Linked DNA regions of Homo sapiens. The protein of the gene in region 1 purifies or fractionates together with the protein of each later gene. This does not show direct contact. Each region holds a gene or a part of one and is shown in the gene's direction. Other genes may lie near its edges. The genes, in order: PAK5, CREB3L2, DSG2, DMD, AMZ2, ALDH1L1 and MRPL39.

What was found.
Region 2: the proteins of PAK5 (region 1) and CREB3L2 purify together in Homo sapiens (co-immunoprecipitation; one large-scale study listed by IntAct). This does not show direct contact.
Region 3: the proteins of PAK5 (region 1) and DSG2 purify together in Homo sapiens (affinity purification with mass spectrometry; one large-scale study listed by BioGRID and IntAct). This does not show direct contact.
Region 4: the proteins of PAK5 (region 1) and DMD purify together in Homo sapiens (affinity purification with mass spectrometry, with the first as the bait; one large-scale study listed by BioGRID). This does not show direct contact.
Region 5: the proteins of PAK5 (region 1) and AMZ2 purify together in Homo sapiens (affinity purification with mass spectrometry; 2 studies listed by BioGRID and IntAct, with this or other methods). This does not show direct contact.
Region 6: the proteins of PAK5 (region 1) and ALDH1L1 purify together in Homo sapiens (co-immunoprecipitation; one large-scale study listed by IntAct). This does not show direct contact.
Region 7: the proteins of PAK5 (region 1) and MRPL39 purify together in Homo sapiens (affinity purification with mass spectrometry; 2 studies listed by BioGRID and IntAct, with this or other methods). This does not show direct contact.

The regions. Positions count from the first base shown.
Region 1 is NC_000020.11:9,576,644-9,581,177, reverse strand, and holds part of PAK5 (serine/threonine-protein kinase PAK 5), read left to right. Parts: intron 1-247; coding exon 248-1,033; intron 1,034-4,534.
Region 2 is NC_000007.14:137,883,144-137,887,677, reverse strand, and holds part of CREB3L2 (cyclic AMP-responsive element-binding protein 3-like protein 2), read left to right. Parts: intron 1-2,175; coding exon 2,176-2,275; intron 2,276-2,556; coding exon 2,557-2,683; intron 2,684-4,534. UniProt on the Homo sapiens protein: Transcription factor involved in unfolded protein response (UPR).
Region 3 is NC_000018.10:31,539,313-31,543,846, forward strand, and holds part of DSG2 (desmoglein-2 preproprotein), read left to right. Parts: intron 1-1,880; coding exon 1,881-2,002; intron 2,003-2,833; exon of another isoform or gene 2,834-3,009; intron 3,010-3,207; coding exon 3,208-3,540; intron 3,541-3,789; exon of another isoform or gene 3,790-4,083; intron 4,084-4,534.
Region 4 is NC_000023.11:32,365,050-32,369,583, reverse strand, and holds part of DMD (dystrophin), read left to right. Parts: intron 1-4,384; coding exon 4,385-4,534. UniProt on the Homo sapiens protein: Anchors the extracellular matrix to the cytoskeleton via F-actin. Ligand for dystroglycan.
Region 5 is NC_000017.11:68,250,379-68,254,718, forward strand, and holds part of AMZ2 (archaemetzincin-2), read left to right. Parts: coding exon 1-92; coding exon of another isoform or gene 93-102; intron 103-415; coding exon 416-589; intron 590-671; coding exon 672-800; exon of another isoform or gene 801-1,009; intron 1,010-4,025; coding exon 4,026-4,189; intron 4,190-4,340. UniProt on the Homo sapiens protein: Probable zinc metalloprotease.
Region 6 is NC_000003.12:126,170,053-126,174,586, reverse strand, and holds part of ALDH1L1 (cytosolic 10-formyltetrahydrofolate dehydrogenase), read left to right. Parts: intron 1-4,534. UniProt on the Homo sapiens protein: Cytosolic 10-formyltetrahydrofolate dehydrogenase that catalyzes the NADP(+)-dependent conversion of 10-formyltetrahydrofolate to tetrahydrofolate and carbon dioxide.
Region 7 is NC_000021.9:25,587,300-25,590,996, reverse strand, and holds part of MRPL39 (large ribosomal subunit protein mL39), read left to right. Parts: intron 1-2,114; coding exon 2,115-2,162; intron 2,163-3,207; coding exon of another isoform or gene 3,208-3,300; exon of another isoform or gene 3,301-3,387; intron 3,388-3,697.

The DNA.
Region 1 (4,534 bases):
TTTTGATGGTTATTTGATGTCTCTGTTGAGATAGGTAAGAAGAAAAATGCAATTTGAGATTGTTTACTATTTGATTTATTTCACCACTGAAGTCAATCAACACATTTTCTTTATCATTTTGTGTTAAGTGTTCCCGGGGTCTTTTTTCTTCTGTAGTTTAATTTGGATGGAGTGGGGGTGGGATGCCACCATCAATTTAAATCCATGAAATATTTTCTTTAAACAATATTCCCTCTATTATTCCCAGACAATCGTTAGAGGAAACAAACCCTGCAAGGAAACCTCCATCAACGGCCTGCTAGAGGATTTTGACAACATCTCGGTGACTCGCTCCAACTCCCTAAGGAAAGAAAGCCCACCCACCCCAGATCAGGGAGCCTCCAGCCACGGTCCAGGCCACGCGGAAGAAAATGGCTTCATCACCTTCTCCCAGTATTCCAGCGAATCCGATACTACTGCTGACTACACGACCGAAAAGTACAGGGAGAAGAGTCTCTATGGAGATGATCTGGATCCGTATTATAGAGGCAGCCACGCAGCCAAGCAAAATGGGCACGTAATGAAAATGAAGCACGGGGAGGCCTACTATTCTGAGGTGAAGCCTTTGAAATCCGATTTTGCCAGATTTTCTGCCGATTATCACTCACATTTGGACTCACTGAGCAAACCAAGTGAATACAGTGACCTCAAGTGGGAGTATCAGAGAGCCTCGAGTAGCTCCCCTCTGGATTATTCATTCCAATTCACACCTTCTAGAACTGCAGGGACCAGCGGGTGCTCCAAGGAGAGCCTGGCGTACAGTGAAAGTGAATGGGGACCCAGCCTGGATGACTATGACAGGAGGCCAAAGTCTTCGTACCTGAATCAGACAAGCCCTCAGCCCACCATGCGGCAGAGGTCCAGGTCAGGCTCGGGACTCCAGGAACCGATGATGCCATTTGGAGCAAGTGCATTTAAAACCCATCCCCAAGGACACTCCTACAACTCCTACACCTACCCTCGCTTGTCCGAGCCCACAATGTGCATTCCAAAGGTAACGTTTGCTACCTCCTTTCCCTCACGTGTGCAAAAACCTCCACAGGGGTGGTGCTGGCACGACCTTTTTATACGATTGGATTGTAAAGTACTTGTTTGCCTTTTAAGGGAAAATCAATATCAAAACCCACCCTATCTCCACTTGTGAGGCCCCAGGGCAGAGGTTTAGGATAAGGCATATATATTCATTAAAATAAAAATCTATCTTTTGGGCCCTCCTACGTGGTTTCTCATTAAAAGGCGAATAAACTTATTGATTTGAAAGATAGAATTCTGATATATGAGTGATAAATATGATGTGACTGTATTTGACTAAGTTCCCTGTTAAGGAGTGGATCAGTCATATACAATCATAGAGCATTAGATCGAGCCATCCAGTGGTTCCTACATCCTGGCAAAGTTTGCATAGACCTGCTAAAAAGGAAAGAAACTCAGTATAACATGGTAATTTTTAAATAAAGCCAATTTTGTTCAACTCAGGGGATGGCCCTTCATATTAAGAGTATGTACTTTCTACTATATTTGATTTGAAATATTGGTTTTTATATGAAATTTGGGGGTGACAGATGGTTGCTGGACCGCTGGACCATTTTTGTCCCCTTTTCACTTTGTTTTGTAGTAATTCCTCTTTTAAATTTTGTTTAAATGTTAGCAGCTCCAAGTTTGCTTTGAAATTTGACTGGTCTATGATATCCTAAAGTTTGGGAATCACTGCCGGAGAAGTTACTGAAACTAAAAGCACAGGCAAAGGTCTATGGGTCCGAAGGTCTAAAGTCTTGGAAAATACCTTTGAGAATGTGCAAGTGATTTATTTTTCCCTGTCATTTAGAAATGTTTTTGCTACCTTACCTGTCCAGCAAAAGAACATGGACCGTAGGGTGTGGAATGTGGATTACATAGAGGTCTTGAAGCAGGTGAGAGGGACATGACTTCTCACAGGGCAGTCATGTACTTTATTTATACCAAACTCTTGACAGTTTGGTGAGCAGCACAGAAAACTCTGGAACCCAAGCCTGCCTGCATTCACCTGATTTATTGATTATAGATAGTCGATATTTTTCCTTTGCTTCTTATTTCTCATTAACCTCATCCAAGATGTTGAAGAGAAGCCATTTAAGTGTATTGTTGGAGTTACTTCAGCCATTCTTTAGAAGAAACAAAAAAGCTGTCACCTTAGTTCCCAGGATATAAAATTAAAAACAAATCTTGATAAATAGAGGCCTGAGATATGTTCCTCCAGTTAAAATTCACATAGTGACAGTGTTTTTTTTTTATCTCGTGGTATTAATGTACTTGAACACCCACACTCAGGATATCATGACTGCTTTCTCTTCCTGTGTGCTTGCCAGGGTGACTGTTGGAAAGAGGTCTAATTAACCACAAGCAAAATCTACTTGAACTCATACGCATGTCTCATGATACATGAGATAGTTTATTCCATTTCTTGTGCATATCACTTGTGCATTTCTGTGAGTGATATGAAATAAATAAGTTAACATGTTCTATAGCTGAATTGAGTTACATCCTGAGGCTTTGAATATCAGTGGTTATTTTTTTATCTAAGATTTTGTGTGCGTGTGGCTTATTTGCATATTTGTGTTAGGGAGTTGTTTGGGGTCATAGTTACAGAGAAAACATTGCCCAGATGATGCTGCATTTTGGTCCTGGAGCCTTATTTGGCTCTTCCTGGATGTTGGAAATGAATATTGGGTGGGCTACACATGTCTATAGTCCAAATAGTTTTAGAGGTCAAGAGTTTTAGAACTCTTAATTCTGGAGTTTCAGTCTTCTCTCTTTTTTATTTTTATTTTTTTAAAAAGGATGAACTGGTATCCCTGAGTCCACATTTTCACATAGCATGGGCTTTTGGGATTTAATGTCACCACCAGCAATCCCTGCACACTCATTTCCTAGAAGGGGAAACTGAGGCCCAGAGAGCCACATGACACACTTACAGTTTCATAATTAGTTGGTTGCAAAACAAGGACAAGAACTCAAGTCTGGTGTTTCTCCCTGCTCAATATTTTCCTATTATTTGGGCGTATGTTATCTCGGGGACTCAACTGCATTTGCCAAGAAAATCCATGAGAAGTCCCAGTGGCCACCAGAACTTTCGTCTAAGTGACAGAAGAACGAGGGTGGGAGGGGTGATTCACTTTAATTCCCTACAGGCTCCCTCTATTCTGCAGACTTCCAAATATAAGACAAAGCAGACCTGCCCTGAAATCTGGCTCTGCCAGCCCAGAAACAATGCACAAACTATTGTGGCTCACCACCACCAACAACAACAACAAAAACAGCATAATCACTCATGGGAACTTCTACCAAGGGTGTTCAGCCCTTACGATCAGAAATACAAAGAAGCAAGCTGCTGCTCCATGTTTCACAGGAAACTCGTGAGAGATTCATGAGCAGGTTTTTGTTTTGTGGGAGGATAAGAGGTGGGAGGCAGGTTAGTAATTAAAACGTTCACTTGATTAAAAATACAACATTTCTCTGAAAAGACGGAGGTGCCTGTGTCTTTAGAACGGTACTCTTAGAGTGTACCAATCACATTTGGATTTCCAGCTGAGGGAAGAAATAGCGGTCACGACTCAGATGAGTCGGCCTTGCTTGCAGAGACTCCTAAAGGAGGCTGGGTCATGTTTTCATCTCCAGTAATAAAAGGAAGCACAAAACTTGTGTAGGTCTCCAGATGAAGCAGAAATGAGGAGGGTCATGTGTGTGTACACATGTGTGTGTGTACACACGTGTGTGTGTTTGACACAGTTTTACATTTTGTCCTAAAGAAAAAAAAAGATTAATGTTAACCCACAGAAAAAAAAAATCCTTCAATGTTATCTACCTACTTAATTTCCCTGCTAGCAGGACAGGAATCAAGAATGTTATGAGTTTGTTGATGTTGGCCTCCTCTCCCTACATTTAAGTGTATTTTGCTGGAACTAAGCAGATGAAACCCTGGGGTTGGGAGGGTGGGAAGCAAAGCCAAACAAAAACCATATAGCACCATACCCACCACAAAATTATGAAAACTGCCAGATGTGGAGAGAGAATGCTTTCCACCCTCGCCTGCAGACAAATCTGCCTTCCACGGAAGGAAGCTAGCTGGAGAAATTGCCGCCATGTATTTGACTTTGCTGATTCCTGTGCTCTCCAGAGACCAGGCAGCCACCTACTTGTGTCTTTGTATTGGCCCAGCACATCCGTTCCCTACTGAGAAGCCCCCAGCATAACAATCCCACCAGTTCATTAAGCATTTGCTGTGTACCAGATACATGCCATGTTTTGTTGAGCCTCACAGATCTGTAAGGCAAGAATTCTTGACCCCTTTGTACAGATGAGGAAATGGGTTTTAAGAGGCTTAGTATGCTCACAGCAGAGCTGGGATCCAACTCTTTGGGCTTAAGCCTTTTACCAGACATTGCATGCATTTCCAGTAGCACAGGGGCAGCTTCTGTGGGTGCAAAGCCTGCAACCTGCCTGATTATAAGCTCCTTTT
Region 2 (4,534 bases), on another chromosome or scaffold:
GAGTGCAATGGTGCAATCCCAGCTTACTACAACCTCTGCCTCCTGGGTTCAAGCGATTCTCCTGCCTCAGCCTCCCGAGTAACTGGGATTACAGACGCCCGCCACCGTGCCCAGCTAATTTTTTGTATTTTTAGTAGAGATGAGGGTTTTACTATGTTGGCCAGGCTGGTCTCGAACTCCTGACCTCGTGATCTGGCCACCTTGGCCTCCCAAAGTGTTGGGATTACAGGCGTGAGCCACCGCGCCTGGCCCAGAAAGGAGTTTTGAGTCCAGAAAGCATCTACTCTGTGTGCTGAGGGCTGCTCCAATTCACCCACCACTCCTATCCATTTAAACTGCTGAAAGCAAAATCATTCTTGTGGCCAACCTGTCCTTAATTTGCTCAAATTGGGAGAACTTGTTTCATTGGTACTAGCTGGGGGTGAAGATGTAAGCCCAGGAAAAATCTGCTTGTCCTTCTAGCACCTGAATGCTATTCGGGGGTAGACTGTGGTGAGAAGCAAGTTATCTGCGAAAGCCCACAGCATTCTGTGAACAAATGATTTGATGATGTTTTCCAGTGAACTTATGTGGCTGTCTAACATTGTTACATCACAGCACACATTTTCCGAGAATCCTTGAGACCCAAGAGAAAGCATCTGCTCATAAAATCTTTCCACTTTGCCATATGCACTGGGTTTGGGGGTGGGGGATGAGGATGAGGAGGAGCTTCAACTCTTTACACCACTCACAGGGAACTCTTCCCGGGTGCTCTAACTCAGGAGGGTGTGTTGTCAGATCCTTTTCTATGCCTTGCAGTGTTCAGAATTTGCAAAGAATTTTACCATCTGCTCTGTGTGCTGATGTCACACAGAGCAGAGTATATAAGACTGTTCTTATCCCTCAAACTTTGCCTTTTAAGGAGAGGCACAGTTGTCCAATTTTAGGGATAAAACGTCTCCTTTTTTTTTTTCTGCTCTTGCTCTCTTGTCTTTTTCCTGGAGAAAGGCTAGAATCTGTTTCAAAGGATGGTTTTAAAGACCCTTGACTCTGGGCTTGAGGGTCCAGTTGAGCAGGCATCTTTGTTCTTTCATATGTTGGCTTCGTTTCCTGACTCTGGAGGTGCTGTGAGCGTTTAAGAACCACAGGCTTGAGCTGCAGGTGGCTGTTTGCCTCTCTGCCTTAAACAGAGCCGTTCTTGTTTTTCCTCTCCTTTCTCTCTCTCTCTTCTAACCTGCCTGTGAATGCCTGTTACTCTGTGTTGGCATTTCCAGTCACAGCCCCCACCTCTGGCCTTTCTCTCTCTCTTCTAACCTGCCTGTGAATGCCTGTTACTCTCTGTTGGCATTTCCAGTCACAGCCCCCACCTCTGGCCACTCCTTCTGTTGTTCTCTGCTGGTCATTTTTTATTTTTCCTTCTCTTTGCCTTTGTCCCTTTTTTATGTTTTTGTCAATGTTTCTCATCTCTTGCTTAAATGAGTTCTTCTTTTAATCGACATTTTCTTAGTCTGTTCAGGTTGCTATAACAAAATGTAATAAACGAGGTCACTTACAAACAACAGAAATTGATCTCTTACAGTTCTGGAGGCTGGGAAGTCCAAGATAAAAGTGTTGGGAGATTCCGTGTTGGGCGAGGGCCTGCTTTCTGGTTCACAAAAAGCAGCTTCTTGCTGTGTCCTCTCATAGTGGAAGGGAAGCACTCTAGTCTTTTCAGCTCCTTATAAGGGCACGAATCCCATCAATGAGGGCTCCATTTATGACTTAATCATCTCCCAAAGGTGCTGCATCCTAATACCGTCACATAGAGGACTGGGTTTTAGCATAGGAATTTAGGAGAGACACAACCATTCTGACTTTAGCCACCATCCAATCAGAGTGTTCCTTTTCCTTTGTTCTCAATCGCTGAGAAACAAGCCACAGCCTGTCAGGGGTAATGTGGAGGCAGTTACCTCTAACTCAGGGCAGTGCAAGAACAGGACTTTCAAGTGTGAAGGCTGATTCTGAGCCCCAGTGAGCTCTGTGACAATGGTGCTAGAAGGTACTGGTGTTCGTATCTTCTTCCAGAGGAAACTGTCCCTTGGGGCTCTGTTGAAATGCAGGCACAAAGGCACGGCGGCCTTCTTGGGTCACATGGAGAGATCAAAAAGCATCTCTTCTCTGTCAGACTCCCCTCACGGCTGTTGTTATCATTGGCAGGACTCTCCTTCAGCAACTCCAGAAGCTTCAGACTTTGGTGATGGGCAAGGTTTCTCGAACCTGCAAGTTAGCTGGCACGCAGACTGGCACCTGCCTCATGGTGAGCTTCCCAGCAGGGTAGCACAGTGACCGCCCCTGGCCTGGCCCCTGTCTCCCCTCTCCCTCCACTTGCCAAGGCCAAGTGCTGTGCTGTAGGAGAAACCACATGGAGGAACTCCACTCTGAGGCTGTTCCTCGGTGAGGCACTCTGGTGATGTGACTGGTGGGTGCAGTCCACTGGCCTGAAGAGGAGAGTCTGTGTCCCTGGGTATAAAGCTGTGCTGTCCAGAGGCTGAAGTCCACAGCCCCTCGTGTTCTCTCTCCCCTCTTTCTCTCCCACAGGTTGTGGTGCTGTGCTTTGCCGTTGCATTCGGCAGCTTCTTTCAAGGCTACGGGCCCTATCCTTCTGCCACCAAGATGGCTCTGCCCAGCCAGCATTCCCTGCAGGAGCCCTACACAGCCTCCGTGGGTAAGACAGCATGTGGCAAGTTGGGCAGGGTCTTGTTTTATTTCCCTAGAGCTGGGTTTCTCAGTCTTCCAAAAGGAATCTTCTGTGAAAGTCCAATGTTTAAAAAGTGGTAAAAGTGGAGCTTCTCCCTTTGAAGAGGCAAGTGGGGGTTCCCCTGGGGCCCCTCATCCACTGGACTGCGGCATCACTGGGAATTCTCCAGAGCTTGACAGAGCACAGTTTGCAAACTGCTGTTCTAGACTGTGTTCCCTGATCCATTCTGACATCTAATTTTTGAGTTCTGATAAGGGAGAGGGAAGCAGATGAGGGAAAGAGTCTGTCGCTTTCTGTGACGTTTTAAGAGAACTGCTGTGTTTCTGCCTCCACTGAGTGGAATTGTATGAGTAATGTAATGCAATGTATATAGTAAGGGCTTGTAAAGTGAAATTAAATAAACAGCAAGGTCAGGGCCGGGCGTGGTGGCTCACGCCTGTAACCCCAGCACTTTGGGAGGCCGAGGCGGGCAGATCACGAGGTCAGGAGATTGAGACTATCCTGGCTAACACTGTGAAACCCCATCGCCACTAAAAAATACAAAAAAATTAGCCGGGCGTGGTGGCAGGTACCTGTAGTCCCAGCTACTGGGGAGGCTGAGGCAGGAGAATATTGTGAACCTGGGAGGCGGAGTTTGCAGTGAGCCGAGATCGCACCACTGCACTCCAGCCTAGACGACAGAGCGAGACTCCATCAAAAAAAAAAAAAAAAAGAATCAGCAAGGTGAGGAGTTCAAGACCAGCCTGGCCAATATGCTGAAACCCCGTCTCTACTAAAAATACAAAAATTAGCTGGGCATGGTGGTGCATGCACCTATAGTCCCAGCTACTTGGGAGGCTGAGGCAGGAGAGTGGCGTGAACCTGGGAGGCGGAGGTTGCAGTGAGCCGAGATCGTGCCACTGCACCCCAGCCTGGGCGGCAGAGCAAGACTCCATCTCAAACAAACAAACAAAAAGAATCAGCCTGCCTTCCAAAACCTTATGCCCAAGATCTAGAGAATATGGGGACTCCGGTGTCAGATAAGAAGCGTATGGTGTTCTCACCTAGAAATAAAGGGATGGTGAGTAAGGAATACACACACAAATTCACACCTACACCTATAGGAATGAGCATGGGGTTAGGCAGTACAGTAGTCCCCCCTTATCTGAGGTTTTGTATTCTAAGCTTTCAGTTACCTGTAGCCAATGAACATACCTGCAGTTACCTTAAAATAGCTGAATACACTATAGTAAGAAACACTACCTGCAGCCAATAAAAATACCTGCAGTTATCTGAAAATAGCTGAGTACACCACCATAAGAAATTTTGAGAGAGAGAGGCCACATTCATGTAACTTTTATTAGAAGATATGGTTAGAATTGTTCTATTTTATTATTATTGTTAATTTCTTACTGGGCCTAATTTCTAAATCAAACTTTATCATAAGTACATATGTATAGGAAAAGGCATATGAACCCTACATGCTATATGCCCATATATAAACCCTGTATGGTTTTTCCCATACATATATACCTTATACCATATATATAGGGTTCAGTTCTATCTTCGGTTTCAGCCGTCCACTGGGGGTCTTGAAATGTATTCCCCATGGATAAGGGAGGACTACTGTACTGGATTTGGGATAGGGAAAATTTTGCCATCTTGAAACGTCTGTGGTCTTCACCAGGCAGGTGTGTCTCTGCCAGGTATGACAGAAGTGCTAGCATTCCAATTAAATAATTTCAGTGGCCTGTTGAGAATTTTTCCCCCCAAGGAACTATCTCTCTAAATTTAATTGGAAGCATAGTTTCTATGTCATGGAAAATTGCTACAGAGCCA
Region 3 (4,534 bases), on another chromosome or scaffold:
GAGCCTTGCATGTAGTAAGCGCTCAAAAAAGATGTGTTGCATGACTTTGGGTTATGGGCACAAGGTTTTTTACAAACCCAGTTTATTCCAATCAATCCTGCTTTGTACATTCAACTTATCAGAGCTCCGCCTCCCTGATATTCCCCGCTTGCCTTGTTTCTTCGTCAGCACCAAAAGTAGGCAGACCCTCTGAGCACTTCCTGTCCTTCCTGACCGTAAGATGTTCTCAACCAGTCCTGCCTGCCCTACCCACGCTCCAAAGACCTCGGGTTTCCTTTTATAAAAGAACAAGGGACTGCATCCTGAGGTCACATGAAATATCACTCTACTTGACCACTGAATATGGACAGAGGGCCGCCTCCAAGGCAGCCTAGGCTAGTGCAGTGACAGAGGAGAGGTCTGTTAGACAAGGGGTCCCCAACCCCCAGGCTACAGACCAGCACCTGTCCATGGCCTGTTAGGAACCAGGCCGCACAGCAGGAGGTGAGTGGTGGAAGAGTGAGTGAAGCTTCATCTGTATTTACAGCCACTCCCCATCACTCGTGTTACCACCTGAGCTCTACCTCCTGTTAGACCAGTGCTGGCATTCGATTCTTATAGGAGCTCAAACTCTATCGTGAACTACTCATGCCAAGAGATCCAGGTTGCGTGCTCCTTATGAGAATCTAATGCCTGATGACCTGTCACTGTCTCCCATCACCCCCAGATGGGACCATCTAGTTGCAGAAAAATAAGTTCAGGGCTCCCACTGATTCTACATTATGGTGAGTTGTATAATTATTTCATTATATATTACAATGTAATAATAATAGAAATAAAGTACACAATAAATGTAATGCACTTGAGTCATCCCAAAACCAACCCCCCTACCCCTAACTTCCCTGTGGAAAAACTGTCTTCCATGAAACCAGTCCCTGGTGTCAAAAAGGTTGGGGACTGCTGTATTAGAGCCATTGGTAGATGTGCAATTGAAAGCACAGCACTCAACAGTCTGCAGTGTACTTTTATACCATCATCTCCATGCTATGGCTACATATACAGATACATAACGGTAAATGACTTGTCTCAGCTTACCAAGTTTGTAGGTAGGTACTGGAGCTGGGACTGTATCTTTTGCTCAGGGATTCCTTGCACTGCTTTCTCATCTCAGATTCCCTGGAGCCTAATGTGGTACTTGGCACATAATAGACACTTGATGAATGTTTGTTAAAATTGTTGAATTGCCACTGGCTGATTTCAGTCTTCTTATTAATCGTAGTAGCTGTAGTTAATGTGCTGTTGACTGTTTGACATAAAAACGAATCTAGGCAGTAGCCAGTTCATCATTGGAAGCTGCCAAATGGGAGTGGCAGATGGGCATGCAGGTGTGTTTAATTCTTTACTACATTGATCAAGGGGTCAGCCTTGGTCTTTGCTTCCTCCTAGGGGTAAAATAAAATCTAAGAAGAGGGCTCTGAAATTGTTATATGTTTCACTTTATTATTTCTAATTACTGTTTTCAATAGTACATATATTTTTGCAACAGTGATTTTTTTTTAATTGGACCATAGTTTTAAAAAAATTAATCTTTAAGCTGGTTTTGATGATTTGGATACTATCTGAACCTAGTCTTGGTATTCCACTCAGCAGCCACAGACAGCCTCTTTTTGATGAACAAGGCCTTGAATCTGTAAGACTCCCTCATCCTGCCTTCGGGTTTTGGAGTAATTCACCCAAAACAAGCTTGGTAAGGTTGGATCAGGGTGAAGAAAAGAAAAATAGAGCTGTAAATAAGTGAAGACAAGTCCAGGAAGGGACATGCAAATTCCAAAATTGTGCAATATAAATTTAGAAATATATCAAGGTTAACCTTATCTGTGTTCAATTTTGTGTCTGTACAGTGGTACCACTTTTACTGCTGATGTGCCATTGCGGAAAGGGCGCCAAAGGCTTTACCCCCATACCTGGCACCATAGAGATGCTGCATCCTTGGAATAATGAAGGAGCACCACCTGAAGACAAGGTCAGTGGATCAGATGTCAATATGACTTGTCTTCTTCTTGGGTTTTAAAGGGGCCTAGGGAAGTGTTTCTTACATGTTTGGTTGAGTGAGTAAAGTGATCACTATGGATTTCACTCATGTGCCTTTGTTAAGCAAAGAGTTCAAATGACAGCATATTTTGTGTTTGTTGCTGGGGCAGAATTGAGATAGTTTTACTCTGTTTTGACACTTCCCATGTTGTAGAGAATGTAGAGCAAGGTTCAGGAAGAGCAAGAGTGTGTAGGAATCTAAGTCTTTTGTCCTAACATTAAATGGGCAGTTTTCATAACCAGGAACTGCTTCATTTCCATTTCCCTCAATACATAGGGTTTGCAGAGGTAAGCCCACAACCCCCATGACACTTGTAAAATGTTGCAAAACCCCATTTCCCAACTACATCATAGCCATATCCCTTTGTCTCTCTGTTGCACCTTCACCCTGGACCTCTCACCACCATCTGTTATGAGCACCATTTCTAATAGGATAGGATTTAGCATCAGGTGGCAGAGAACTCAGAATAACAGTGGCTTAATCCTAAAATGGGCATTCCAAGATCAACATGATGATTCATCCGCAGCATGGTCCCCAGTTCCCTCTTCCTTGTTTTTCTTCCATGGTTGAGTTCCATTCCCACACTGTCCTCATGTCCTAGTTCTAGCTACCTAGCTGCCGTCCCCACATTCTAACCAGCACATGGGAGAAAAGTGAAGAACCCTCTTTAAGCACACTTCCCGGAACTTGTGTACACCATTTCTGCTTCATTCACATTGACCACAGTTTAGTCAGGTGGCTATACCTAGTGGCATCAGAGGCTTAGAAATATAGTCTTTATTTTGGGTGGCCATGGATCCAGGTCAAAACAAAGTTAAGAATTCTGTAACTATAGAAGAAGGTATCAAACTGTAGAGGGAGGTTGAAATGCCATTGGTCGCATAGAGTAAAGGAGCTGAGACTGTTTGGGCTTTGTTTTCTCTTTGGGTTCTATCCACCTATAAAACAAGAAGAGAGAAGAAAGGAGATCTTCATAAGACTTACATAAGTTATTCAACTCAAAATACTTTTTCTAACTGGCCTCAGTGGAAATAGCTTATACCTTCCTATGCCCACTTGACTCAGATCCTTCTACCAAGGATGAAGGATTCCCTCCATCCTCCTGACTCAGTTCTCAGCTGTGTTTGCTCTCACAGGTGGTGCCATCATTTCTGCCAGTGGATCAAGGGGGCAGTCTAGTAGGAAGAAATGGAGTAGGAGGTATGGCCAAGGAAGCCACGATGAAAGGAAGTAGCTCTGCTTCCATTGTCAAAGGGCAACATGAGATGTCCGAGATGGATGGAAGGTGGGAAGAACACAGAAGCCTGCTTTCTGGTAGAGCTACCCAGTTTACAGGGGCCACAGGCGCTATCATGACCACTGAAACCACGAAGACCGCAAGGGCCACAGGGGCTTCCAGAGACATGGCCGGAGCTCAGGCAGCTGCTGTTGCACTGAACGAAGAATTCTTAAGAAATTATTTCACTGATGTAAGGATGAGTTTTATGTATTGGTGGTGGGGGGTGGGGGGAACATTTGTATGTGAATGTGATATTATTAGGGTAATCATTGCCTTGGATCCAAATGAGACTTTGGGTTTTTTTTTTTTTTCTTTTTTCAGGGAATACTTATAGGCAATAAGGAAAGAGAAATGGGACCCACAGAATCAGTCGGTGTTAGCTAAATTATGCTGCAGTAACCATGATCTTAGTTCTCACACAGGCATATTTCTCACTTACAGTTATGTTTTTGCCAGTCAGTCAGCTCTGCTTTCCTTCATGATGTCTTCATATCAAGATGCACACTGAGAGAGCAGATTGTACCTGGGAAGCTGCCGTCCTTGTGACCCAAAGAAAAGAACAAGGCAGAACCAGGCAATGGCTCTCAAAGCCTCCACCTTTTTACACCACATTTCATTGACCAAAGCAAGTCATATGACCAAGACAGATGTCAGTGGGTCGGAAAGTTGCATCCCTCTGCAGGAGCAGGCTTGGTAGGGATGAGCTCCGTAGGAGAGGCAGAGGATATATAACCTAAAAAACACAATCTATTAAGTCCATTTAAATTTTACCTTCTGTATGAGAGTACTTGGCTTTGCTATTATGAGGGTCCACCAAAAAATGATGAGAAAAGTTCCAGGAAGATGATCAGATGCAATAAGGAAGCTCATGCTAGAATTGAGGAATTAGAAGCAGAACTGAAAATAAAAGTATAATGTAGAGGTCAGGCACAATGGCTCATGCCTGTGATCCCAGCACTCTGGGAGGTCAAGGCAGGCAGATCACTTGAGCCCAGAAGTTCAAGACCAGCTTGGGCAATATGTTAAAACCCTATCTCTCCAAAAATACAAAAAATTAGCTGGGCATGCTGGCACACACCTGTAGTCCCAGCTACTCAGAAGGCTGAGGTAGGGGGATCACTTGAGCCTGGAAAGCCAAGGATGCAGTGAGCTGTGATCATACCACTGCACTCCAGCCTGGGCAA
Region 4 (4,534 bases), on another chromosome or scaffold:
TAAAGGTGTTCCTATAGGACCAGATGATTTTTCCAATAATTTTTACCGTTCTACCATTAAATAAAAATAATGAAAAATGCTGATGGTATAATCAGCAGAGACCAATGGAGAAGGTTTTTCCATCTTGCTACTGTATCAGTGAAGTGAGCCGATAGCTGAACCCTGAACCGAACATGCCTTTTTAAATTTCTACAAGCAATTATACTTGTAGATATGGGGAATGAATCAGAATGTATTCTTCATCCTTCCCATCAACATGGGGCATGACTTCACTGGAAGAAATTAACTCATTATACTCATTCTTTTATAATAAGGAAATTAGAGTAGCATTTACAAATTATGGCTAAGAAGTAGACAGCAAATTTGTTTGAAATCATGGAAGTTAGTGCTTAGTATTTGGACTATTTATACTGGAGCTATCAAATGTTACAAAGTAACATATGGAAAATAATATGTTAGACATTGTGAGAATTTATAGTTTAATTGGATTTTACTTATGTCAGATATTTTCCCCTCTATCATAAAAACCCTTAGTGCCAAGTATATAGTTTGCGTTCACCTTCTCTTGAATCTCCTGAAGGTGGACTTACAATCATGTCATAGGTCAAGTTAAAACTGAGTGTACACAATCTTGCTTTTTCTTCAGCCCTAAAATCGATCCTAGCAGCAATCACATTACTACATGACTGAAAAACCTAAAGTGTCTGAGTTATAATTTAGTGAATTTAGTCATTGAATTTGAACTTGCTCCTTCAGAAGAGTAGATCTTCTAGAACCCTCTCCACTTCTCACCTCACAAGGCAGAAGAAGGCATGTATGCTGAGAATCGGATGCTTTTGAAAAGGAGGAAATGCCATATCTTTTCAGCTGTTTCTTTCCATCTCGCCAACCCTATAAATAAGGAGCTCCCTTTGAGAGGAATGAGTACAGGTATAAAGACAATGGCCAAGGCAATAGCTCTAGGTTGGTTCTCCATACATCTGAAGATGCAGACATTCTTGTGTTGTGGGAAACTATTAGAGCCAGAGAAAATGGTTCGTCAACAACCTCATCAAATGTATTCTTTTAGTTTACAGTAAGAATTCCCTGTTCCTCTATGGCAGCCTTGTATTCTAACTTTCATACCTTCTCGTTGCTTCGTACTTTGTCTTTAGTCAATCCAAACCATCCCATGCACACTCCGCCTTCAAGTGTCACCTTTCCCTTGTAGTCATTCATGCTTATTCCAGCCATGGCTCATCTGTTTCCAAAAAAAAATGTGATTTTTTTCTAGTATGATATCAAATTGTTTTATTGCATTTAAGCTTTCCTCTGCAGCTACACTGTAGGCATGATTAGAGTGAGGTTTGCAAAGATTACCTCATTCCTCATCTCTGGCAGTGAATAGCACAGTACAGACTGGATATTAGGCACCTGATATACATTGGTCAATTAGTATTTCAGATCTCCAGAAAGCAAGCTCAGCATAGTATTTAAAGGCTAAGTCTTATTTAAGTCTTATTTCTTAAGTCATATCTTTGATTAAAAACACATTTGAGGGAAAAATTTAAGGCCTACTAAATTAACACAATATTTTTTCCTAACCCAAAACAGCATGTATACAAATGATTGAATACTGGTTCCTTATTGTTGAATAGCATACATAAAAGTTTAACTCTAGGTCTCTTTTTTTACAGAGTGTAAATTGTCCTGTGAATCACTTTTGACCATTAGCAGTTATAAACCACCATCATATCACTGCTTTTTTCAAATACAAGTTGATAATGGTGATAAATTGAACATCTTTTAGTTTTAATTTATAATTTTGTGGAACTTAAGAAGGCACTAGAAATTAGTCCACATTTCCTATTTTGTTCCCATCAACTGAACATCACTGGACATTGTTTAAATTAGCTGGAGGAATTTGGCCAGATGTTGACACATAATGGTTTCTGTGACCCAGGAACTACCTGCAACATTATCCCCTAAGTTCAAAACTTTTGTGATCTCTTCTGAGTTTTGGAAAATTCCATTGCCTTTAATTGCATTGCTTGTCATGTAAGAAACAAAATCTATGTACACAATAACTTTTTACATTGATGCTAAAATATAGTGTCATCTTTATGAAGACTTATTAAGAGATAATTAGTAATCCAAATATAAATTAAGCTTCAACTTTGTGAAGGGTTACCTTTGTGAATAAATCAACTACAGCGAGATGCCAGTAGACTGGAATATAGAAAGTAGATAATTCTCATTTGCGTATATGTCCATCTCTTTGACAAACTCATACTTGGATATAAGTTTTTGAAGGATGGGGACTTCTCTACCGTTTTATCCCACAGAGCCTAGTAACAATGGCTAACATCTATGGTTGTAGAGGTTGTATACTACAAAAGGTTGAAGTCAAAGTATTAAAAGGAATAAAATCTAGTCTATGTCTACTCTGAAGTTAAGCTCTAAAGGGTCTGTATCTACCCAAATGAGAGACTTCTAATAATCTCCCAGAATATATTGAGGAGAATTACATATGATTCTGCTACAGTAGTAACTGGCATATAATAGGAGCTCAGGCAACACTTACGATTGATAAATGAAGAAATTGCTTTTATGAATTGCTAAGCTCACCTGTGTGCAACAAATAGCACCTACATATGAAGAACCCCATGCATGATAGCTGTCGAGTTCATCTGGCATTAAGTACCTTAATTTCAGGCATGTTTTTATTGAAAAAATGTGACATAAAACCATATCTTAGAATTGAAGAAACAGTGTTTTTGTCTTGCATAAAAATTTTTATACATTGTTTCCTCATTTATTTCTCCTGTTTATCCGATGCCAAAGGCAAAACCAAAACAGAAAGTATGAGAAGTGATTTCGAGTGGACCAGGACCTTATGGCGTGGCAGAAAGACAGCCACAGGACTACTTAGGTATATTATAAAGATAGAAAAGACATGTTGAGAGTGACTCTATGAGGCCAGCCTATACCTAATTTCTTACTCTTGTACTGTAATTTTTTTCTTAAGAAATTAGATGTAGGCTGGCATTACAGAGCTGCTCCTTGTGTGTTTATTAATTGATTATTTGTATCTGGACTTTCTCCACTTTCCTGTTATTGCTGTTTCTCAATGATTTTGTTTTGCTTTGGCTTTCTGTGATTAAGACATCAGCTCCACTCGCAAATAGCTTTTCAACTCGAGTGCCAATCACAGTCTCTGTATCTGTTAACCTTATTGAGAAAGGAGAAAAAGGGTCTGTTGGGCTCTGGCTCAGCTCTCTGTGAATGTCCCACAGCTGGCTAACTAGACAGGCAGGGAAAGAACCAGGCACAGACTCAGTGGAATGCCGAGTGGCCACATTGTCTGTCAGCCGTGCCATGTACCAGGAAAGGGGCTTTATGCAGGGCAGGTAGTAAACCTTTGTACTAAGATCACTTTTTCCATCACTACTCTCTATCTTTTTTCATGTTAAATGTGATTGTTTTCATGTTTTATAAATCACCTCTTAGGAAATAGTGGTATTCTCTTAGGAGATTTTAGTCTAGGGTATGTGGATAGAAATAAGGTCTGTGAACTTGGATTGGGGGAAAACTTTATCTTTATTTGTATTCAATTAAAACCAAAAGTAAGCAGTTTTTTCAGTTAAAATGTGAGCAACAAACTCCAGCAATAGAGATACCCATGACTTTGTCACTAATAGAAATGACAGATACTTTTATAACGTGTTCCAGACATTGTACATACTTAAAAATACCAGTTATGCTCGTCATCACTACATTGAAATTATCCTAAAGACCTGATGCTAGATCTTGTTAATTAACATATTAGGAAATAAAACATGTATTACTACATCACAAATATTTAAAAAATGTGTTGCACATTGTATTTCAGTATAATTGTTTTCATTTAAAATCCTATGTATTTTGTTTTATGCATTTAAAAGCATTATTATGAGAATGGGTTTTTAAGCTTCAACAGATGCCAAAAAGATCCATGGCACTAAAAGGCTAAAAAAATCCCTGCTGCAGAAATACAGTAGCACCATACTGTAGAATTTTCTAAGGGCAGTTTCTTATTTGTGGATGGATTTTCAAATATCTGCCTTTAGCCACTACATGTATAAATTAAATAAATATAAATATATTTAGTTGAACAATATGTATGTTTATTAAATATTTATAATGAAAAATAAGACATGAATTATGCTTATGTACATATATATGTTCATAGTTACCCAACAATGAAGCTTCAGTATATATGGTATGGTTTTCATGATTCATTAATACATAGTTATAGGTTTAAAACCTTGCAGAATCATAGTAACCATACAGAAAGCCGTTTCATAAGCATTAAATCTTAAGACTACAAGACATTACTTGAAGGTCAATGCTCTCCTTTTCACAGGCTACTCAAAAAGAGATTGAGAAACAGAAGGTGCACCTGAAGAGTATCACAGAGGTAGGAGAGGCCTTGAAAACAGTTTTGGGCAAGAAGGAGACGTTGGTGGAAGATAAACTCAGTCTTCTGAATAGTAACTGGATAGCTGTCACCTCC
Region 5 (4,340 bases), on another chromosome or scaffold:
TGAGGCTCCCCAAGACTTTGAACAGTTCTTCAGTGATCCTTACAGAAAGACACCCTCTCCAAACAAACGCAGCATTTATATACAGTCCATTGGTAAATACTGGTAATGTGCTGGTTTTGGTTCAGTTTTGCAGTGGCGCTCTTGTCAGGAATAGTCCAGGCTATGGGTCTGATTCAGATGGGCCGTTTTAGGATCGTTTTTGATATTCATTGCGGCGGTACAAGTTTTGTAGCCAAACTGACTTAAAAGATAACATTTTGTTTCTTTTTGTTTCATAGCAACACCAATGAATGATAAAGGTTATTGAAAATTTAGAGTTGGTTTTGTTTCTAATTTGAATCTTCTTACTCATAGACTGGGTAAACACTGAATAATCATCTTAAAGTCTGTTTTTAAATGTTCTTCCATATTGTAGGCTCTCTAGGAAACACCAGAATTATCAGTGAAGAATATATTAAATGGCTCACGGGCTACTGTAAAGCATATTTCTATGGCTTGAGAGTAAAACTCCTAGAACCAGTTCCTGTTTCTGTAACAAGATGTTCCTTTAGAGTCAATGAGAACACACACAACCTACAAATTCATGCAGGTGAATTACACGACTTTGCAATTCGAACTGAGTATATGTATATAATATACACTCATACATTTATGTATTTCTTTTTAAATAGGGGACATCCTGAAGTTCTTGAAAAAGAAGAAACCTGAAGATGCCTTCTGTGTTGTGGGAATAACAATGATTGATCTTTACCCAAGAGACTCGTGGAATTTTGTCTTTGGACAGGCCTCTTTGACAGATGGTATTCCGTTTTTGGCATTGTTGTTAGAAGCTTCTTCAGCTTGAGAATATTTGAAGATGTTAGAAGAGGGAAAAAATTCCAACCAAGAATCATATTGATATTTAAAATATTTTCAGTTGAGACATTATGCCATAATGGGAAGTGTGCTGTTGGTAGATTGTGATAATCTAGGTTCTGGTTGGCCACTCACTACCTACAGGACCTTAAAGGTAACAATACCCACATCATGGAGTCATTTGGAGATAATTTACATAAAAGTGCCTGTACATAAAAAGTGTGGATAAGCCTGGACAACATAGACCACATGTCTACAAAAAAATAAAAATTTAAAAAACTAAATTAGCTGGGCATGGTGGCACATACCTGTAGTCCTAGCTACGCAGGAGGCTGAGGTGAGAGGATTGCTTGAGCCCAGGAGGTTGAGGCTGCAGTGAGCCATGATCGAGCCACTGCACTCCAGCCTGGGCAATAAAGTGAGACCGTGTCTCAAAAAAAAAATGTATATATAGGCCTGGCATATATATAGGCATACAGCATAACAGCTAGTAAATGTCAGTAATTCAGTAGCAAGGTGAATTAAACCAATTACAGTTTGAGCTATCAATGGATGTGAAAATCTTGCTAATTATTTTTCAATTCTTTTCATAGTCATCTTGCACAGTTAGAATAGCCATAGACTAAGTGTATGCTTCTTTCTCATCATACGACATTTGTTTTTTAATTTAAAGAGTCAAAACGTCCATCTTTGATTTGAGATATGTAATAAACCTTGACTCATTAGGAACTCTGTATGGTAATATTAGGGATGGGAAAGGTTCTGCAAACCGGTCATATTTTTAACCTTTTTTTTTTTTTGTCATCTCTCTACTTCTCCCCTCCCCTTAATTATTGTTCTTATTTCTCTAACTTCATCCCTAAGAATCCAACACAGACTTGAAAGGGAAAAGGCCCCCTAAGGGGAGTGGTTCATTAGTGTTCTGGGGATGGGGAGTAAGTACAGGGACTATCCTGAGAGTTTATGGTCTGTCTGGATGTTACATTAGCCTTAGGATTTGTGTGGGGTGGTAAGCTTTTTGGGACAAATGTTTCTACTAGAGGTGGGGGCTGTAGGGTTATAGAGCCTCTTCCCACTTACTCCTTTATTCTTTATTCTCCATTTATGTGAGGTTTCTTGTGGCCCCCATGGCCCTACCAGCATGCACTCTTGGAGACGTGGGTCACTACTTTCTTACTGATTTTGGTGGTGTGAGGTAGCTTTTTATCATAAGTTTTCTCTTTTATTATTAACCTGATAGAGATGGAAACATTGAAAAATAATTCTATCTACCTTTTATTTTTCTTTTGAGACAGAGTCTCCCTCTGTCACCCAGGCTGGAGTGCAGTGGTGTGATCATGGCTCACTGCAACCTCAACCTCCTGGGCTAAAGGGATCATCCTGCCTCAGCCTCCCGAGTAGCTGGGACCACAGGACCACCACACCCGGCTATTTTATTTTATTTTATTTTTGGCCAGATGGGATTTTTTTTGGCCAGATGGGATCTCCCTGTGTTGGTCAAGCTCATCTTGAAGTCCTGGGCTCAAGCGAGCCTCCCATCTCAGCCTCCCAAAGTGCTTTGATTACAGGTGTGAGTCACCACACCCAGCTAAAAAAATAATTTTAAAACCATATGTTCGTTTATCTAGATATTGCTAGCTAACTTATCTTATGTGTTTGAGGAGGTCAGGAAACATTTCCCCAAACTGTATTTACTTTAATTCTTTTTTTGGTAAGTTTCTTAAATATTACATGACATAAAAGATTTACATAGGAAAGTAGCAGGATTAGACAGTGACAATATCTTAACACAGTGGTCTTGTTTTCTCCGAGTTTACAAAGATTGATATTTTTAAAGTGAGACGCATTGACTACGAAAAAAATAGTCTATTTGTAGGATTATTGGAAGAAGGAAATGTCCTTGCTGAAAGTAGTGAAATATGCTCACACTTGATTGGCCAGAGGGGGTTACTTGTGATAAAGGAATAGATTTAGTGTGCTCTTAATTTCCAGAATGCTATCTTTGCTTAATTTTCAAATATCAGTCTACATTTTCTGGGTAAAGGGAGGTGAGGAAGTTTGTTTTTGAATCAAATTAGATTGGACAAATCTACTATGGGTTTATTACTTTAAAAACTGAACGAGAGACATAAATAAAAGTGATCATGTAAACAAGTCGAATTATGAAGCAGTACCCTGTAGGGTGAGTTATGTAGCAAACCGTGTTCTCTGTGCTTGCAGAGATGGTTGATATAACTCTAAATGTAACACAGGAAGTCAGTTACAAGGGTATTTATTCTGGTCACCAGACACTAGTGACAGAATAGAGTTGAGCTGTTCTTTGAAAAGGGGGTAGGGTTGGGGAAGGGGACGAGGTTATTCTGTCAAAAGCCGTGGTTTAAAGCATGGGCTTCAAGACATCAGGGGCAGTTGTCCTCAGTCAGTGCTGCGTGAGGGAAGGCCAGCAACCCCTCCAGACACACGTGTAACAGATCTGTTTAGTGTGTCCTTAAATAGTGAAATCATGACTTCCTATTGTTCATGTGATTTTTTTTTTTTTGAGACTGAGTATCACTCTATCGTCAGGCTGGAGTGCAATGGTGCGATCTTGGCTCACTGCAACTCCGCCTCATGGGTTCAAGCCATTCTCCCGCCTCAGCCTCCCTAGTAGCTGGGATTACAGGCACCTACCATCATGCCTGGCTAATTTTTTTTAGAGACAGGGTTTCACCATGTTAGCCAGGCTGGTCTTGAGCTTCTGACATCAGGTGATCCACCTGCCTCGGCCTCCCAAAGTCCTAGGATTACAATCGTGAGCCACCACGCCCAACCCATGTGGTTATTTTTTATGATTCCTTTTTGAGTACTTGATTTGGAGTACTTGCTACTTTCAGAAAAAGACTTCTTTTGTGGGAAAAGACTCTCTGAAACTTCAGTTTCTCAAGCATTTGACCTCAAGTCCATTAAGTTTTACAAGGCAAGGCAAAGTGGATAGCAGCAAAAGATTTTGATAGGGAAATCTGGGGCAAAAGTCTTCCTTTTTGGTGGCAAACCATAAGTGTATCAGATGGTGTGGACACAGTGACACAGAGATGCACTCACTGGCCAGATGGGCCAGCAGTCTCTTCTTTCTTTGGTCTTTCTTCAGGGACCTTACTCTCATTCTGTCACTGTTTGTCCTTTTTTTGTAGGTGTGGGGATATTCAGCTTTGCCAGGTATGGCAGTGATTTTTATAGCATGCACTATAAAGGCAAAGTGAAGAAGCTCAAGAAAACATCTTCAAGTGACTATTCAATTTTCGACAACTATTATATTCCAGAAATAACTAGTGTTTTACTACTTCGATCCTGTAAGGTAAGTTATTACAAAAATCTGACAGGACAGTTCTTTAAAAGAGATCTTAGTTCCGTAAACTGTATATTGTCAGTCCGTAAGGTAATATTATAAATGAGTTTGTATCATTTGTATAATTTTGGTGCATAGTGCTTGACTGAAATGATCAGTA
Region 6 (4,534 bases), on another chromosome or scaffold:
ATTGATTTCTAGTGATTCTGTTGTGATCTCAGTAATCTCCATCATAGAAGTCATTGATATTTGTTGTTGTATGTTTTATGGCACAGAATGTGGTCTGTCTTGATGAATATTCCATGTGAACTTGAGAAGAATGTGTATTCTGTTGTTGTTGGGTGAAGTATTCTCTAAATGCCAATTAGATACACTTAATTGATGGTGCTGTTCAACTATGTCCTTACTGATTTCCAGCCTGCTGGATCTATCAGTTAGTGGGTACTGGCCAGGCACGGTGGCTTACGCCTGTAATACCAGCACTTTGGGAGGCCGAGGTGGGCAGATCACCTGAGGTCAGGAGTGCGAGACCAGCCTGACCAACATGGAGGCTCTACTAAAAATACAAAATTAGCCGGACGTGGTGGTGCATGCCTGTAATCCTAGCTACTCGGGCGGCTGAGGCAGGGGAATTGCTTGAACCCGGGAGGCGGAGGTTGCAGTGAGCCGAGATCGTGCCACTGCACTCCAGCCTGGGCAACAAGAGTGAAACTCCGCCCCCCCAAAAAAAACGTTAGTGGGGACTGACAGAGAGGTGTTGATGTCTCCAACTGTAATAATAGTGGATTCATCTATTTCTCCTTAAAATTCTGTCAGTTTTTGCTTTACACATTTTAGCACTGTTGTTAGGCACATACATATTAAGGAGTATTATGTCTGCTGGGATAATTGACTCCTTTACCATTATGTAGTGCTTCTCTTTATTCCTAATAATTTTCCTTTCTCTGAAGTCTGCTTTATCTGAAGTTAATAGAACTACTCCATATTTCTTTTGATTAGTGGTAGCACGGTATATCTTTCTCCATCCCTTTATTTGTAACCTATCTGGTTTTTATGTTGAAATGGGTTTGTTGTAGACAACATATAGTTAGGTCACGATTCTTTATTCACTCTAGATAGTCACATGTTTTAATTGGTATATTTACACCATTGATATTTGAAGTGATTTTTTGATATAGTTGGATTAATATTTACCATATTTATTACTGTTTTCTATTTGCCCTTTGTTTCTTTTTTCTTCCACACTTTTTTCTGCCTTTTCTGATCTTAACTGAGCATTTTATATGATTCCATTTTCTTTTCTCTCTTAGCATATCAGTTTTACTTTTTTGTTGTTGCTTTTTTAGTGGTTGACCTACAGTTTGCAATATACACTTAAATCTAATTTAAGTCTGCTTTTGAATAACACTATACAACTTTATGGGTAGTGTAAGGGCCTTATTGCAGAGTATTCTTGATTCCTCCCTCCCATGCCTTATTATTACTGCTATCATTCATTTCACTTATCCATAAGCTACAATCACTGAATACATTGTTGCAATTATTATTTTGAACAAATTGTTATCTCTCAGATTAAGAATAAGAAAAAAAATTATTTCACATTTATTTCTAATACTCTTTTGTATGTTGAGTTTCTGACTTGTTTAATTTTCCTTTTTTTCTGAATTACTTCTTTTAACATATCTTGTAAGGCAGTTTACTGGTGACAAATTCCTTCAATTTTTGTTTGAGAAGTCTTTCTCCTCCACTTTTGAAGGACAATTTTACTGCATACAGATGGAATCTAGTTAGTTCTAAGTTGATGGAATGTTTTCAGTTCTTTAAATAATTCTTTCTATTCTATTCCTGATTGCATGGTTTATGAAGAGACGTTTGATGTAATCCTCATCTCTCTCCCTCTATAGGTAAGGTGTCCTGCCCTGCCTCTCCCTGGCTTCACTGAAGATTATCTCTGTGTCTTTTATTTTTTGCAGTTTGAATATGATATGCCTAAGTATAGATTTTTTGGGGGGTGGGGGGTGATCTTTATCCTATTTGGTTTCCTCTGAGCTGCTTGGATCTTGGTTTGGTATCTGTCTTTAATTTTGGAAAATTATCAGTCATTATCACTTCAAACATTTTTACTATTCCTTTCTTTCTTTTTATTCCATCTGATATCCCTATTACAAGGATTTACACCTATGGCAATTGTCCCACCATTCTTGGATATTCTGTTTTGTCTTTTTTATTCTATATTTCCCTTTGCATTTCAGTTTGGGAAGTGTTTGTTGATATTTCATCCATCTCATTGATTATTTCCTCAACTGTATCCAGTCTATTGATAAACCTATTAAAGACATTCTTTGCATTTATCACAGGGTTTTTATTTCTAGACTTTTTTTGATTTTTTTCTTAATTTCCATCTCTCTGCTTACATGACCAATTTGTTCTTATATGTTCTCCACATTTTTCCATTAGAGCTCTTAGCATTTTAATTATCATTGTTTTAAATTTTCCATCTGAAAATTCCAACATTGCTTCCATATCTGATTGTGGTTTAGGTGCTTGTTTCATCTTTGCAAACTGTGTTTTTGTCTTTTATATATCTTGTAATTGTTTTGCAGAAAATCAGATATAATGTATTGGGTAAAAGGTACTGAGGTAGATAGGCTTTTAGTGTGAGGTTTGATATTTACCTGTCTAGGAGTTAGAATGTGTTTACTATTTGCTATAGCTGTGGGTATCAGAGGATATAATTTTCTCTCTTCATCTTCTTGTTTTTGTCTACCCTGTTGTCTTTGGGTTTTTGTAGAAACTCCTTAAATAGGCTCTGGCTTGCAGTTCTCTTATCCGTAATCCCCTTGTTACTATACTGGAGCCCTGTGGATGTAGTAGCAAGGTGTTTTGGTGGGGGGAAGTGTTTTACAGTCCTACAATTAGGTCTTAGTGTTTCAGTGAGCCTGCACCCCTGGGCTGTGACCTTCACAAGTGTTTCTCAGTCCTACCCCTTTTAGGTGATGAGAAAGGCTAGAGGGGCTGGATTTGGGTTTTTCCTCATCACTTAGGTTAGTTAGGCCCTGGGTGTCCATTCACTTAGGCTCTGGTATAATAGTTTCTATGAGGGTAGATATGTTGAGAAAAAAATGACTGCTTTCCTTGCCTCCTGCCAAAACCAGAAGGGGATTTTTCTCCAATCCTTACTGTGAGAACTGTAAGAATTAAAGAAAGAGGAAAGAAATACAAAAGCTGGCTTGCCAGTTAAGACATTTATTTTAGAGAAAATCAACCTGAAAGGAGCCTTCTGGCCAAGTTAGGTCAGAGGCACACTCTCTTACAGACTGAGTTTTTAAGGATTCAGGATGGGAGAGTTTATCAGAGGCTTGGACTGCTTCTGTGTCTCTTTGTTGTGCTTATCTGGGAGGGAGAGTTGTGTGCCTGTTTTCATACATTTTTCCTGCAGCTGCAGGTATAGTCCCTGAGTCTGTTTTTACTTATTTATTGAGACAGAGTCTCGCTCTGTCGCTAGGCCGGAGTGCAGTGGCGCCATCTCGGCTCACTGCAACCTCTGCTTCCCAGGTTCAAGCGATTTTCCTGCCTCAGCCTCCTGAGTAGATGGGACTACAGGCATGCGCCACCACGCCTGGCTAATTTTTTGTAGTTTTAGTAGAGACGGGGTTTCACCGTGTTAGCCAGGATGGTCTTGATCTCCTTACCTCGTGATCCGCCCGCCTCGGCCTCCCAAAGTGCTGGGATTACAGGCATGAGCCACCGCGCCCAGCCAAGAGTCTGCTTTTAGCTTTCCTGTCTTAGTGCCCCTGAAGGAAAGGGAATGTGCTTGTTCCTTATTATTAAGGCCCACTGTTTTACTGGGGCCCATCGTATGAGGGTGAAGTTTGGCAGTTACCCAAGATACTTTCCCCCCACCTCCCTTTGTGTCCCAGCTGTCTTATCCGTGTTTTACTGTCTGCTCTTTCTGGCTGCTTGTAGTTAGAAGAGAAGTGATTTCCTTGAAATGCATGAGGCTAGAAAGGGAGCTGGAATTTAAAGTGGCGGTGTTTGTCTGAGATGACAGTACTCCTGCTCTATCATTCCAGACCCTATGGTTATAAAAGGACAAGAGGGGACATGTTCTTTCTAGCTACTTCCTGCTGATGCGGGGGTGGAGAGTTTTTTGGTCTTAGATTGACTGTAGGATCAACACCATTTGTAGATGTTTTTGGGTAGTTGCGAAATGGCCATGATTCTGTCGGTTAAAAATTTTTGATAAAGGTTAATTAGGCAGAGTAAAAACATTAGTCCTAGGCTTTTCAGCAGCATTTTTTATTAGGCCCGACTGGTTGAGACAGAAGTAACTTTTTTTTTTTTTTTTTTTAATGACAGGCAGAGGTGCATGTTTGGAAAGACCCATGTGTTATTTTTTGTTAGTAACTGTTATTCCTGCTATGAGGATAATAATTAAGCAAAATGCTACAGTAATTGAGATTCTCTGTCAGATATTCCACTCTGAGGGTTCACAGTCCTACTGCAAATAGTAGAGTGAGTACAGCAGTTCCCGCGAGGGTGTCATAGTAAATAATTTTCATTAAAAAAGGTTTTAATAGTTGGCTTAAAAGGAGAAGTAGAAACGACAAAAAGTATTTGGTGAGGTGGGGTTGAGACTGAGTAAGATGAGCAATTTTTACTTAGTTACTTAACTTTTATGATTTTTAGCTTAAGATTTCTTATTTATTTTTTTACATGAATA
Region 7 (3,697 bases), on another chromosome or scaffold:
TAAAAATTAGCTGAGCATATTTATGTAGGCCTATTTTTGGGTCCTCTATTCTGTTCCATTGATCACATATGTTTAGCTCTCTACCAGTACCACCCAGTCTTGATTACTGTAGCTCTAAATAGGCTGTGAAATCAGGTAGAGTAATTCCTCCCTTGTTACTGTTTTTTAATCAAAATTGTTTTAACTCTTCTAGTCTCTTTGAGTTTCCATTTAATGTTAGGATAATATTTTCAATGTCAACAGAGTCTTCCTGAGATTCTGATAAGTCCATTAGACCTGTATAGCAGTTTGGGGAGAATTGACATCTTTAATATGTTGAGGTTTCCAGTCTATGAACTTACTGTATCTTCTTATTTATTTATATCTTCTTTCATCCCTCTCATTTTGTAAAATTTAGCACACCTCTCCTATACATTTGACTTTGACTTTTCTCCACATACCTGCTTCCTTTCCTAGCCTTCCCAATTTCAGAAAATGGGATCATCCTTTAACTCAAGCTTGTCCAACTCACAGCCCATGGGCTGCATGCAGTCCAGGACGGCTTTGAATGAGACACAAATTTGTAAACTTTCTTAAAACATTATGAGGTTTTCTTGCGATTTTTTTTTTTTTTTAGCTCATTAGCTGTCATTAGCGTTAGTATATTTTATGTGTGGTCCAGGACAATTCTTCTTCCAGTGTGGCCCAGGGAAGCCAAAAGATTGGATACCCCTGGTTTCCTTAGTTGTTTAAGGTAATCCTTGATTCTCTTTTCCCCTCATAGCCATGCCCCAGCCCATCCATCCGCAAGTCCTTTCAACTTTTAACTCTGAAACATATTCTGAATCTATGCACCTTATAACATCTCATCTACTACTACTTCCCTTATCCAAGTTCCTCTTTGTTTTCACTCACCTTCCTTGCTTTCACTCTTGCCATCTACAGTGCATTTTCCACTTAGTAGCCAAAGTGATCTTTTTAATACACAATCTGTTATGTACTTCCTCTGCCCCAAACTTTCCAATGGCTTCCCTTGAACAAATCCCAACTCTTTACCCTGTCTCACAAAGCCCTGCATTATCTGGTCCCTGCCTGCTTCTCTGACTTTATCTAACACCACTCCTTTCCTCACTCACTATATTCCAGCCACAGCTTAAGGTCTCTGCACCAGCAGTTCATTCCGCCTGAGTCAGGCATGGTTTTCCCTTTAAACATACCAGTCAGCTCTTTCCCTGGAAGGGTTTGTATGTTGATATTTATTAATTTTACCTTTTATTATAGATTTTATGAGCTCATTCAGTGTGGAGTAGTCACTGGCCTGCCCATATGTCTTGTTACCACTTTCAGTTGACCTAATAAAATTGATGTGGTCATGATACACTTTGCACAGTTTTCTTTAATGCATTCTGATAATCCTCTGCTACAGGAGGTTGTTATGGACTAAGGAAATTGAGTTTAAATTTTACTATTGTCTTGGGAGGCTGAGGCAGGAGAATTGCTTGAACCTGGGAGGCGGAGGTTGCAGTGAGCTGAGATCGCACCACTGCACTCCAGCCTGGGCGACAGAGTGAAACTCCATTTCAAAAAAAAAAAAAATTTACTATTGTCTTTGTTAGGTTTTACTTATTCTTTAGGGTAACTTGATGAATCCTCTGCTTCTGCCATTTCAGTGTGAAGATGTCACAGTTGGTTTTTAATGACTGTCTTCTTGTGATTGCTTATGATTTGAAGAATGACTTCTAGAATGTTGAAACTGGCTGTTTAAGGATTGAACCACAGTCTATGGGAAAGTAGGGCAGATTTTTGCTTCCTATTAGAAGAAATGCTTTCTATGATGGAAATGATTAAGATGGGCAAAAGTGAAAGAAGGGCACGTTCAATCCTTAAGCGTTTTTTTCTTAAATGCTCACTGCAACCTCTGCCTCCCGGGTTCATGCGATTGAAGAAAGCAAAAAAGCAGCTATCCCCATGTAGCACCTTTTTTTGCTACTATGATCCACTTTTATAACCACTTATCTAAATTAGTACTGCCTAGCTTTTTATTTATTTTGTTCTAAAAGCTATATAAAGACTCTGTCCTTTTTACTTTGACATTACTGCTTCATTTAGTTCATCGCAAATCTTTTCTTTTCAAGGCACATTTTACAATATGGGATAAGCTATTGGAAAGATCTCGGAAAATGGTAAGTGTTTTTGACAGCTATTGAGTACTCTTCTATAAAGAAATTCATCAAAATTAACCAATAACAACCAAAGGGGGGAAAAATGAAAGAAACAAAGAGAAAGGAAAAAAGTAAGTTGTCTCAATAGTCAAAGCAGTGTTGTGATTGTTCACTAGTGTGTTGGTAAGGGTAAAGTTGTAACTTGGCAGTTCTCTTTTGATTTTATTTGTTAATATCGTGAAAATGATATTGTAGAACTTGAAGAGAAATAAGAATATTACTATGTAATAGTAATAGTTCTTAATAGTTGTAATGGTATCAGTTAGGTCTTAGGATTTATTTTGTAAACTTAATGAATATTTAGAGGATTAAGATTTGTCAGGTGTATTTTAAAGCCGCCTTTAGCCATTAACAGTAAATGTGCAAATATCCTAATGTCCTGAAAAACCAGATTTGAATGTTTGTGTTTTTGTAGTTTATTCTTTGTCATTAGCATTTAGACTTAATGAGTAGGAATGATAGTATTTCTTTTCTTTTTTTTTTTGAGACAGAGTCTTGTTCTGTCTCCCAGGCTGGAGTGCAGTGGCGCGATCTCAGCTCACTGCAACCTCCACCTCCCGGGCTCAAGCGATTCTCGTGCCTCAGCCTCCCAAGTAGCTGGGACTATGGGTGCCCACCACTACGTCCAACTAATTTTTTTGTATTTTTAGTAGAGACAGGGTTTTACCGTGTTAGCCAGGATGGTCTCGATCTCCTGACCTCGTGATCCACCCCCCTCAGCCTCCCAAGGTGCTGGGATTACAGGCGTGAGCCACCGCGCCCGGCCCGGGTGATTGTATTTCTTGACCACAACTATTCCTGTTTCCTATTTCATAGGCTAAGTGTGCCTCTTTTACTTAGGTTATCTGATAGCTGTCCTGTGTAATCTGTCCTCATTAGGACTTCCTCCTTATCCTAATTTCCCACAATGCCACAAACACTGGTTAAGCTTGCAGGCACATTAAGCATCACACATTAAACTTATTTTCAAGTTTGCTTATTTCTTCATGATAGTTTTTCTTTCTAGACTCCATTTCCCATTCTCCTTCTATTTACTACGCAGTCATTCTTCACTACCTCGCCTGAGTCGTACCTCCTCCATGGAACAGTCTCAGAGTAATCTCTAACAAATAATTATTCATATAAGTTTGTGCTTGATTGTATATGTCCACATACTATTTTTTGATTGTTTTCTTTGCCAGTACATTTATTTTCTGTCTGTTAAGCCTTTCAGGATTTGTTATATTTGTGTAAGCCCAAATTTTGAACACAACATTAGCACATGAAGGGGTTACCCAAGAAATATTTATTGACAATTTTTCATAATGATATATAAACCTAGTCTTTATTAATGACTATGTAGATAGGAATTATTGTTTAGGGACTTCACCATAATGTTCTTGAGTAAGGGTTATATAATTTTTTTTCTCATGAGAAGAAATTACCTTTGAATGGATGGAGTAATTTTCTCTTTTTAGTTGGTCACAGTGATCATTTTAGATGAAGAAACTAAAGAA